2 separate regions of the Homo sapiens genome follow, and region 2 is reported to be linked to region 1. Evidence: microRNA targets listed by miRTarBase, many of them from high-throughput screens and not tested one by one. Region 1 holds a microRNA gene; the other region holds the end of a gene's coding sequence.
What was found. Region 1 holds the annotated microRNA hsa-miR-365a-5p (AGGGACUUUUGGGGGCAGAUGUG, at 1,880-1,902, opposite strand). A microRNA usually pairs through its seed, bases 2 to 8, with sites in the 3' UTR of a target mRNA and lowers its output. Matches are read on the target gene's strand: a 7mer-m8 pairs with bases 2 to 8, a 7mer-A1 pairs with bases 2 to 7 and ends in A, and an 8mer does both.

Region 1 (4,068 bases):
GAGTGACAAAGAGAGACCCTGTCTCAATTAAAAAAAAAAAAAAAAAAAAAAAGGTTGTTTTGGGGGAATCTCCAACAGCTCAGGAAACCATCTCATCGGCTCCAGGCTTTTCTCACTTGAGGTCCCCGACACTGTGCAGGTGGAAAGATTTAAGGGGCTCCTGAGAGCCCAGCCCCCATCCTGGCAGGCTGCAGGGGGTGGGTGGGGGGTGCGTTCTGGCAGCAGGGCCGGCAGCTGTCTGCAGGCCTCTCAGTGCCTGCTCTAGCTGGCCAGCGGGGGCCCGCTGCCACCCCCCACCCCATGATGCAGCAGAAAGTGAAACCGCAGTTGGCCCCTGCCGGCTGGGACTGATCACCCATGGTTTCCCTGCAAAACCAGAGTCCCAGGGGGCTGGTGGGCAGCTGGCTCCCAGGTCCGGCACAGTGAGGCCTGTCAGGCAAGTGCCCCTAGAGGCCAAGGGAGGTGCCCTGGCCAGAAAGGAGGGTGCTGAGTCATCGTGACCCTAAAATGAGAGAGAAATCTGAGCTATGGATCAATGCAGGAGTGGGGGGGTGAGGGGTCCCAGTGGTGTCGGTGAGCAGGGAAGGGTGGTTTCCCGACCCCCAAAAGGAAGATGTGTGACACCCAGTTTTGTCATGCTGGAGCCCTCTACAGATCTGAACTGGCAACTCCCCCATCTCCCCCCACCCCTCCCCACACCGACTACAGGAGTGCGGAAAATCCCTGAGATAAACAAGAATTCTCTAAAAGTGGACCTCTGAAACTTTACACACGACTTTCTGATTTCTGTCCCATCCTCAGGGCAGCTGTAGTTGCTTAATATTTTTCTTCCAAAACACCCACTCTTTTTTGTTTAACTGACATCAATTGATGGACAAAAAAAGGGCCCCTGTCTCCCGACCCTAAATGGAAAACCAACCAATTGCCTGAAGTACAAATCAGCGGTGCAAAGAATACCTACTAGAATAATTTTCACCTTTAGCCGGCGCCGCTTAAAATCAGAGATGTGCAAATCAGACTTGGGAGTCTGAGTTACAGGTTTCATGCCTGAGGAGCTGGTGGCTCAGAGAGACTGACTCACTTGTCCCGGGTGACACAGCAAGAGAGGCGCAGAGCTCGGGCTGGAATGCAGGCCTGGCTGATCCCAGAAACCCAGGCTCAGTGCTGGGCTGCCGTCTCCCCACCCATGAATTCCTCTGTGTGTATTCATATTATTACCTTCCATGTTTAATGCATGGACTCTCCAATTTTCAAAGCACCTTCAGAGCTTATACAACGTTAGAGCTTTTTATATATAACATTGGCTACATCCAAGAACCCTTTGAAGCCAGAGCAGGGGGTGCTGCCCCTCCCTTGGTGTATGGGGAAACTGAGGCAGCGAGCGGGGAAAGTGTTCTGTCTCAGGGAGCTAGCAGGAAAGCCAGGACTGCCCCAGGGCCCCCTGCCAAGGCGATGATCCCGGAGGCCCTGGCTGCAAGGACCAGGCCTCGTCAAACAGGTAACACTTGTTTCTTTCCGCTTTCCCTACCTCCCCCTACAACCCCCCAGAGCAAATGCTGACGCTGATGGGGAGCCACAGCTGTACTCCTTCCCAGGCCGGATCTCAGCGTCTGCCCCTGGAGGGCAAAAGCACGTTTAGCAACCAGTGTCTGCGCATGGCGTCTTTCAATTTTTCACAGTGATAACCGGTTTTGAGCACAAGAAGGCATCTACCAGGGACCCAGAAGGCGCTACAGCGGAAGAGTTTGGGGAACAGCTTTCTCTCTTCTTTGAGTTGCTGGAGGAACTCCGAGCTGATGTCTTTCTGGCCCAGGGACCCCCGAGGAATACTGCAAGAGCAATAAGGATTTTTAGGGGCATTATGATAGTGGAATGGAAACACATCTGCCCCCAAAAGTCCCTCATTTTCCCTGCGGTAACGAACCAGCTGGCAGGAAGTGGTAGCTCTCAGAGCACCAAGAGCCAAAACTAAAAAGGAAAAAATGTACAAAGTTAGAGCAAACTTTAAACAAGTGAGCGCTTTCATGGTGTACGGCGGCTCCGTGCAGACTCACGAAAGGGACCTCATCTTCTCAATAATTGGCTAAATAGGTCTCAGTGCAGCAGCTTCCACACAGACGTGCTCAGAAAACCACAGATCTGGAATCCCAGAGCAGGTTCCCAAAATGGATACAAGGATTATTCCCTAAAGCCAGGCGCATCATAGGAGACGTGACGTTTCCCCCAAACTTCAGATGACTGTTCCAGACCCTCATTAATGATCTAAGTTATCCTTCAACACCTCCTCCTCTGGAATGGGAGAAACTTAGTCCCCTTGGAAATGCTGATGAAAATACCTGGTTTCCACAACACGGACAGAAGGACTAAGGCTTGGGTAGGGGAGCTGAGTGGTTATCGCTGGTGGTGCAAAAGGGGCAAACCGGCTGGCGTGGGGGCTCACGCCTGTAATCCCTGCACTTTGGGAGGCCAAAGTGGGAGGACTGCTTGAGGCCAGGAGTTTGAGAACAGCCTGGGCAACACAGTGAGACCCCCCCCAAGTCTCTGCAAAAAATAGCCAGGTGTGGTGGTGTGTGCTTGTAGTCCCAGCTACTCAGGAGGATGAGGCTTGAGCCTAGGAAGTTCAGGCTGCAGTGAGCTGTGCTCACCACTGCACTCCAGCCTGGGCAACAGAGTAAGACACTGTCTCAAAAAAAAGGGGACGGGTTTTACTGCTAAGGTCCCAGGTGCCATCTCTTGGTTCAGCCACTAAGATCTGAGGACTAAGGAGTTCAGGGTGTCTTCCCCAAGGCATATAACCTTTGAGGCCCTGCAGGTGGGTGCCCCCTGTGCCAGCCAGCACCCTCAGAGCCAGGAAAGGGTTAACCCCTCCACATGGCTGACACCAGAGGAGGAGCTTACTACGCAGCCTGGGATATCACACTGGGCCATCTCAGAGAGGAGAGGCCTCTGTGAGTTCTGTGAATGGAAGTGGATTCACTGCCTTCAGATTGAGAACGGGGTGAAAAGGCATCCCCACACAGAACCGACGCCCCAGTCGCTAGCTGGCTCCTTGGCACCCGTCGCATGGCCCCGAAGCTCTGGCAGGGACTCTGGGCACCTGTACCAGTGAGCACCCGGCCATCTCGGCCAGGTCTGTGAGGGAGCGATTCTACCCTTGCCATGTGACAGCCGGCAACTAGGGCCCAGATCTCTTCTTTCAAGTAGCACCTAAAATATTCTCCGGGTGAACCTAGGGCTAAATACGGCATGGCCTACAGGTGCCGGGTCTGGACCTTTTAACGCCATTCTAAGATACGATCGAGAACCCACGAGGCCTTTGGTAGCCTGGAGTCCAGTTACTGGGGCCAAATGGGAGTCCCACGGGTTTGGCTGACTCAGGGCTGGGTGCAACTTCCTGGAGCAGGCACATGTTGGTGCCAGGGCAGAGAGGCTGCAGACAGTTTTCTTGTGTGTTTGAACCCAGAATGCCAGCCCAGTTCTCACTCTGGGCCGACCCCCAAGGTGGCTTAGTTGGTGGCCCCTTTTTCTGTCCACCTGGCCCACTTCTTTCCACTTCCAGCCTGCAGCCCGGCCCTTCCTGGCCTAGGTTTTCCTCCCAGCCTGATCAAAGCAAAAGGCTCAGCTCCCAGGTGGGAGGCCTCACGGAGCTGGAGAAGAGACCAGCAAACACATGCACGGTAACTCAGATGTGTTATGTGTTGTCTTGCTGGCTGGGAGCTACGCCTCCTAGGCCCACCCCAAGTCGAAGGATCGCAGCCCTGGTGCTCGAGAGCAAGGGCTTGGGGCTGGGCTGCAAAAGCTCAGCTTTGCCTCTGAATCTTCTAGAACCACGTTTGCACTCACACAGGACAGATTTGCTCTGAGCCTGTGGGATAGCCTCATCTGTTCCCCTTTGAGCATTTGGAAAGCAAAGTGGGGTTCTGCCCTCGCCAGAGCCCACAGGGTCACCAGGCTATTAAACCCTGCAGAGTCTCTGGGGAGGCTGACTTTGAGAGCCAAATACCCCATCTTCTGGCTGAACTGCTGCAGGCTTCGTCTCGGGAGGAAAGACCCCCAGGCACCTGTCTG
Region 2 (4,068 bases), not on the chromosome of region 1:
AGGCCTGGTGGCCCCTGAGCTGCTGCTCCGAGTGGAATGTCCTGGTCTAGAGGCCCTTGGCTGCTCCAGTGTCTTAAGACCCATATATGAGTGCTGGCTCTGACCTTGAACAAGCTCCTCCATCGCTCCAGGCCTCGTTTTTCAGGTGTATATGATGATAGTATCTCTAGGCCTCGTTTTTCAGTTGTAAAGCAGGGATGATCATATGTGTTTAACTCCCAGATTGTTATCAAGTCAAGGACAACAATAGGAAAACATGTCACCTGTCAGCTCCACACAAGGCAAAGTAGGATGGGTGACCCCTGACTAGGGGGTGGGAGTGCAGGGGGCACCCGACCCATCTGGCCAGCCACAGCCTCTGTACCCTGCTCGCATTTTCAGGCCTCAATCCCCAAGCACTGTTGGCCCTGGACTGTTTCCCCCCCTCAATTCTGTTTCTCAATGCCTGCTTCTTCCCAGTAAGTGCCACACCCTGAGGGTGGGTGGGAGAGTGAGGCAGCACTGCCCACTTTGGCTGGGACTGGGCACTGCTGGGGACAGCACGGGCCACGTCTTCCCCATCTCAAGACTGGCTTTTTGGCTAGGCATTGTGACTCACGCCTGTAATCTCAGCACTTTGGGAGGCTGAGGTGGGAGAATTGCTTCAGCCCAGGAGTTCCAGACCAGCCTGGGCAAAATAGCAAGAATTCATCTTTATGAAAAAGAAAAAAAAAATTAGCCAGGCATGGTGGCACACACTTATAGTCCCAGATACTTAGGAGGCCGAGGTGGGAGGATCCCTTGAGCCCATGAGTTGGAGGCCGTGGTGAGCTATCAGTTGCACCACTGCACTCCAGCCTGGATGGCAGAGCAAGACCCCAACTCAAAAAAAAAAAAAAAAAAAAAAAGGCGGCCTTTTCCCAGCTGGCAGCACCCTGGCTAGTTAGGGTTTCTCCGAATCTGCAACTCCTGTGTGATGGCGGGTCTCAAATGCTGGCAGCAGAGTCACCGGTCAGCGGCAAGACCTGGAGTCTCCATTTGGAACCAGCACCCGGGAGCCTCTGCTGGGGGTGATCATGGAGCCGCACGTGGAGGCTGGTGGCTCTGATGGTTCGAGCCGTTCCTCGGCAGCACAGCACACCCGCTCCTGAGGAGCCACGGAGCTCATGAGCGTTGGCAAAGTGCTGTCAGTGCTGGCTGTAAGGAAACAGGCTTGACTTTTAACTCAGCCTTTCCCAAACTTGACTATAATACTTTCTTGAAAATCAGAATAACCACTAACATCACAAAACGAGTGTTCTCAGGAGTGGGCATGTTTATCTCGTTCTCTTTTTTTTTTTCTTTTTGAGACGGAGCCTCGCTCTGTTGCCCAGGCTGGAGTGCAATGGTGCGATCTCGACTCACGGCAATCTCCGTCTCCCCGGTTCAAGCGATTCTCCTGCCTCAGGCTCCCGAGTAGTTGGGATTACAGGCGCACGCCACCACGCCCGATTAATGTTTATTTTTAGTACAGACGGGGTTTCTCCATGTTGGTCAGGATGGTCTCGAACTCCTGACCTCAGGTGAGCCTCCTGCCTTGGCCTCCCAAAGTGCTGGGATTATAGGCGTGAGCCACCACGCCCAGTCTTTTTTTAAATATTTGAGTGAAATAAAGCCTAGGAGATATGTGTTCCAGGCGCCCAAGCTGTTAATGTGGAGCTTGAATGTGGCCTGGACCTGCCCTTTCCTCTTCTCCTTTCATCCCCCTCCCTGCCGCCCACATCCTGAACTGCTCTGAGCCTGCAGAAGAACCCAGCGGGAATCTTCAGGGTTGTGGAAGGGTGTAGGGATGGAAAGGGACCAGGATTCGCCTGTTTGGCTGGGAAAATCGGTAGAGGAGGGTGGCTCACACTTCTAAGATGTCTGCACAAGCCCAGTTTGTTTGGGGGTTGGGGAGGAAGGTCTTTTCCTGGCCCACTGTCCCTCCCGAGTCAGCAGTCCCCCAGAGAGACGAAGAGCAGCTGGGCACGGCTGGAGCTGGTCGGTGGCAGAGAATCTTGTCCTGCCTTTTCTTCTCAAGCTCAAAATAGGCACATGCAGCTATTAACTGATATGCCAGAAGGGGCATCCCTTACCCGGAGGAAAATGGATTTATTGCTTTATAAAAAAGAAGTCTAATAAAACTGAAGAGAAAATAACTAAAAATCCAAACACAACTCACCCCTCTAAGCACGCCCAGGAGGTCTCAAGACACACTTCTGGGGGCAGTCAAGGTGGGCGGGTTGGTGGGCCAGGCGGACGGGCCTCCCCCGTCATCAGCTCCAGGGCCCCACGGAGCCCGCCGGCAGGGGGTGCTGTGGGCCTGTGGCCTTGGACAAGCTCCTGGCCCCACGCCAGGATGGCTCCTGGGCACTGGCCCAGCTGCAGGCCTGGCGGCTCCCGCCTGGTCAGTGGGGATAAGGGCTAACTCCTAGAGCCCACCCCGACCCCACACACACCTCGGACCCACCCACGTCCCCACCCCGGCCTGGACCTCCACGTCTGCCGGCCACAGCCTTTCGTCCACCTCCACAAAAGCAGCTGTGTGTATGTACGGGGTGCCCTGGCGGCGGTCCTCAAATTCCCTTCAGGTGGCAGACAGAACGAGGGTGACAGTGAAAACGTGTCCGCGGCATTGGCCCTCGGGGAGGAGGCGAGGGGTCCACCCAGCCCGCTAAACCCTCTCCAGGGCATAAGCCAGGTGGGGCTTCTCCACCGGCCTCCAACGGGTGGGCAGGCCCTGGACAGGCGACAGGGGGCTGGAATTACAAAGGAATTAGCACCGACAACAGGAAGCGGGTCCTTCCTTCCTCAGGCAGCCTCAGGCTGGCCGGGGAGGGGGTGGGGGCCAGGCGCGGGCGAGACAGTGCAAGCCTTTGTCCTCAGGCAGGTACGGCTGTGGGCATGCAGCCGAGGGGCAGGTGGCAGGCAGGGGATGGCAGCCCCCTCTGCTTTGGCAAGAGGCAGAATCCAGACACTGGCGGGAGAGCGCCTGCCTGCCGGGCGTTCCTGGCTCCTGCTGCAGGCACCACAGAGACCCCAGGCCCCGGGTCCCCGGGGGGCGGCAGAGCAAAGTCAGGGCAGCCCCTGCGTTCGGCAGGAGAAAACGCGCGTGTCCGGGGCCCTCTCCCGTCCTTCCACCACAGAGCTCCGAGGCAGGGCCCCGGGAGGGAGCGTGAACGCTGGCACGGAGACGGCGAAGGTCCTGGGGGTGCGTGGGGTACTCTGGAGGGGCAGGACAGGGGTCAGTCACTGAAGCACAGGCAGGAGACCGCAGTTCCGAGGCGGCAGCCACTACACGAAGGCCTCCTGGTTGGACGAGCCGTTGATTTTGAGGAAGAGTTTGTCATCCTCCTGCCTCTGCTGCAGCTGCCGCTCCAGCTGGCGCCGGTAGCAGATCAGGTAGAGCGGGAGGCAGAAGCCCAGCAGGCTGAGAAGGAGCAGCCCCACGTTCACCTGGGGAGGCAGGGAGGCCGCGCATCACAGGGCGTGGTGGTGCGCCGAGGCTGCAGACCCGCCCTCCACTCGGGTTTGGGAAAGGGGAGAAGGTCACGGGGTGGAAGGGGGAACGAAACAGGAAGGCCCACGAGGTCCCATATGCCAGCGTCCCGGTTCCCAACTCTTCACAGGCCATGTGGCCACCCTCAGGGCCTGGGCCCCCAGGAAACACGGGCTGATCTGAACCTCTGGGCTTGGAACAAGTTCCTGGTACCTGGTGAGGAAATCTGGCCCTCGGAGGTGGGGCGGGGACAGGAACTGTGTTCTTTTTTTTTTTTTTTTTTTTTTTTTGAGACGAAGTCTCGCGCTGTCGTCATTCAGGCTGGAGTGCAGTGGCGCAATCTCAGCTCACTGCAATCTCCGCCTCCCGGGTTCAAGTGATTCTCCTGTCTCAGCCTCCCGAGTATCTGGGATTACAGGCACCTGCCACCACACCTGGCTAATTTTTGTATTTTTAGTAGAGACCTGGTTTCACCATGTTGGCCAGGCTGGTCTTGAACTCCTGACCTCAAGTGATGCTCCCGCCTCGGCCTCTCAAAGTGCTGGGATTACAGGTGTGAGCCACCGCGCCCG

Region 2: miRTarBase lists SLC43A2 as a target of hsa-miR-365a-5p. Seed matches in the 3' UTR shown: 7mer-A1 at 516-522.

Annotation. Positions count from the first base shown.
Region 1 is chr16:14,307,134-14,311,201 of GRCh38, reverse strand. It overlaps MIR365A (microRNA 365a), which reads right to left and starts at 1,917; the gene lies at 1,831-1,917. The region is part of intron 1 of MIR193BHG (MIR193b-365a host gene); the gene reads right to left. RefSeq lists enhancers at 185-324, 425-544, 336-630, 2,517-2,566, 3,362-4,046 and 1 more and a silencer at 456-750.
Region 2 is chr17:1,572,313-1,576,380 of GRCh38, forward strand. SLC43A2 (solute carrier family 43 member 2) reads right to left here. Exons shown (of 14, transcript NM_152346.3): 14 at 1-3,453. The coding sequence ends at 3,292. Among named protein-coding and RNA genes, the nearest start is that of PITPNA, 12 kb to the left of the region's middle. RefSeq lists enhancers at 3,204-4,016, 4,017-4,068.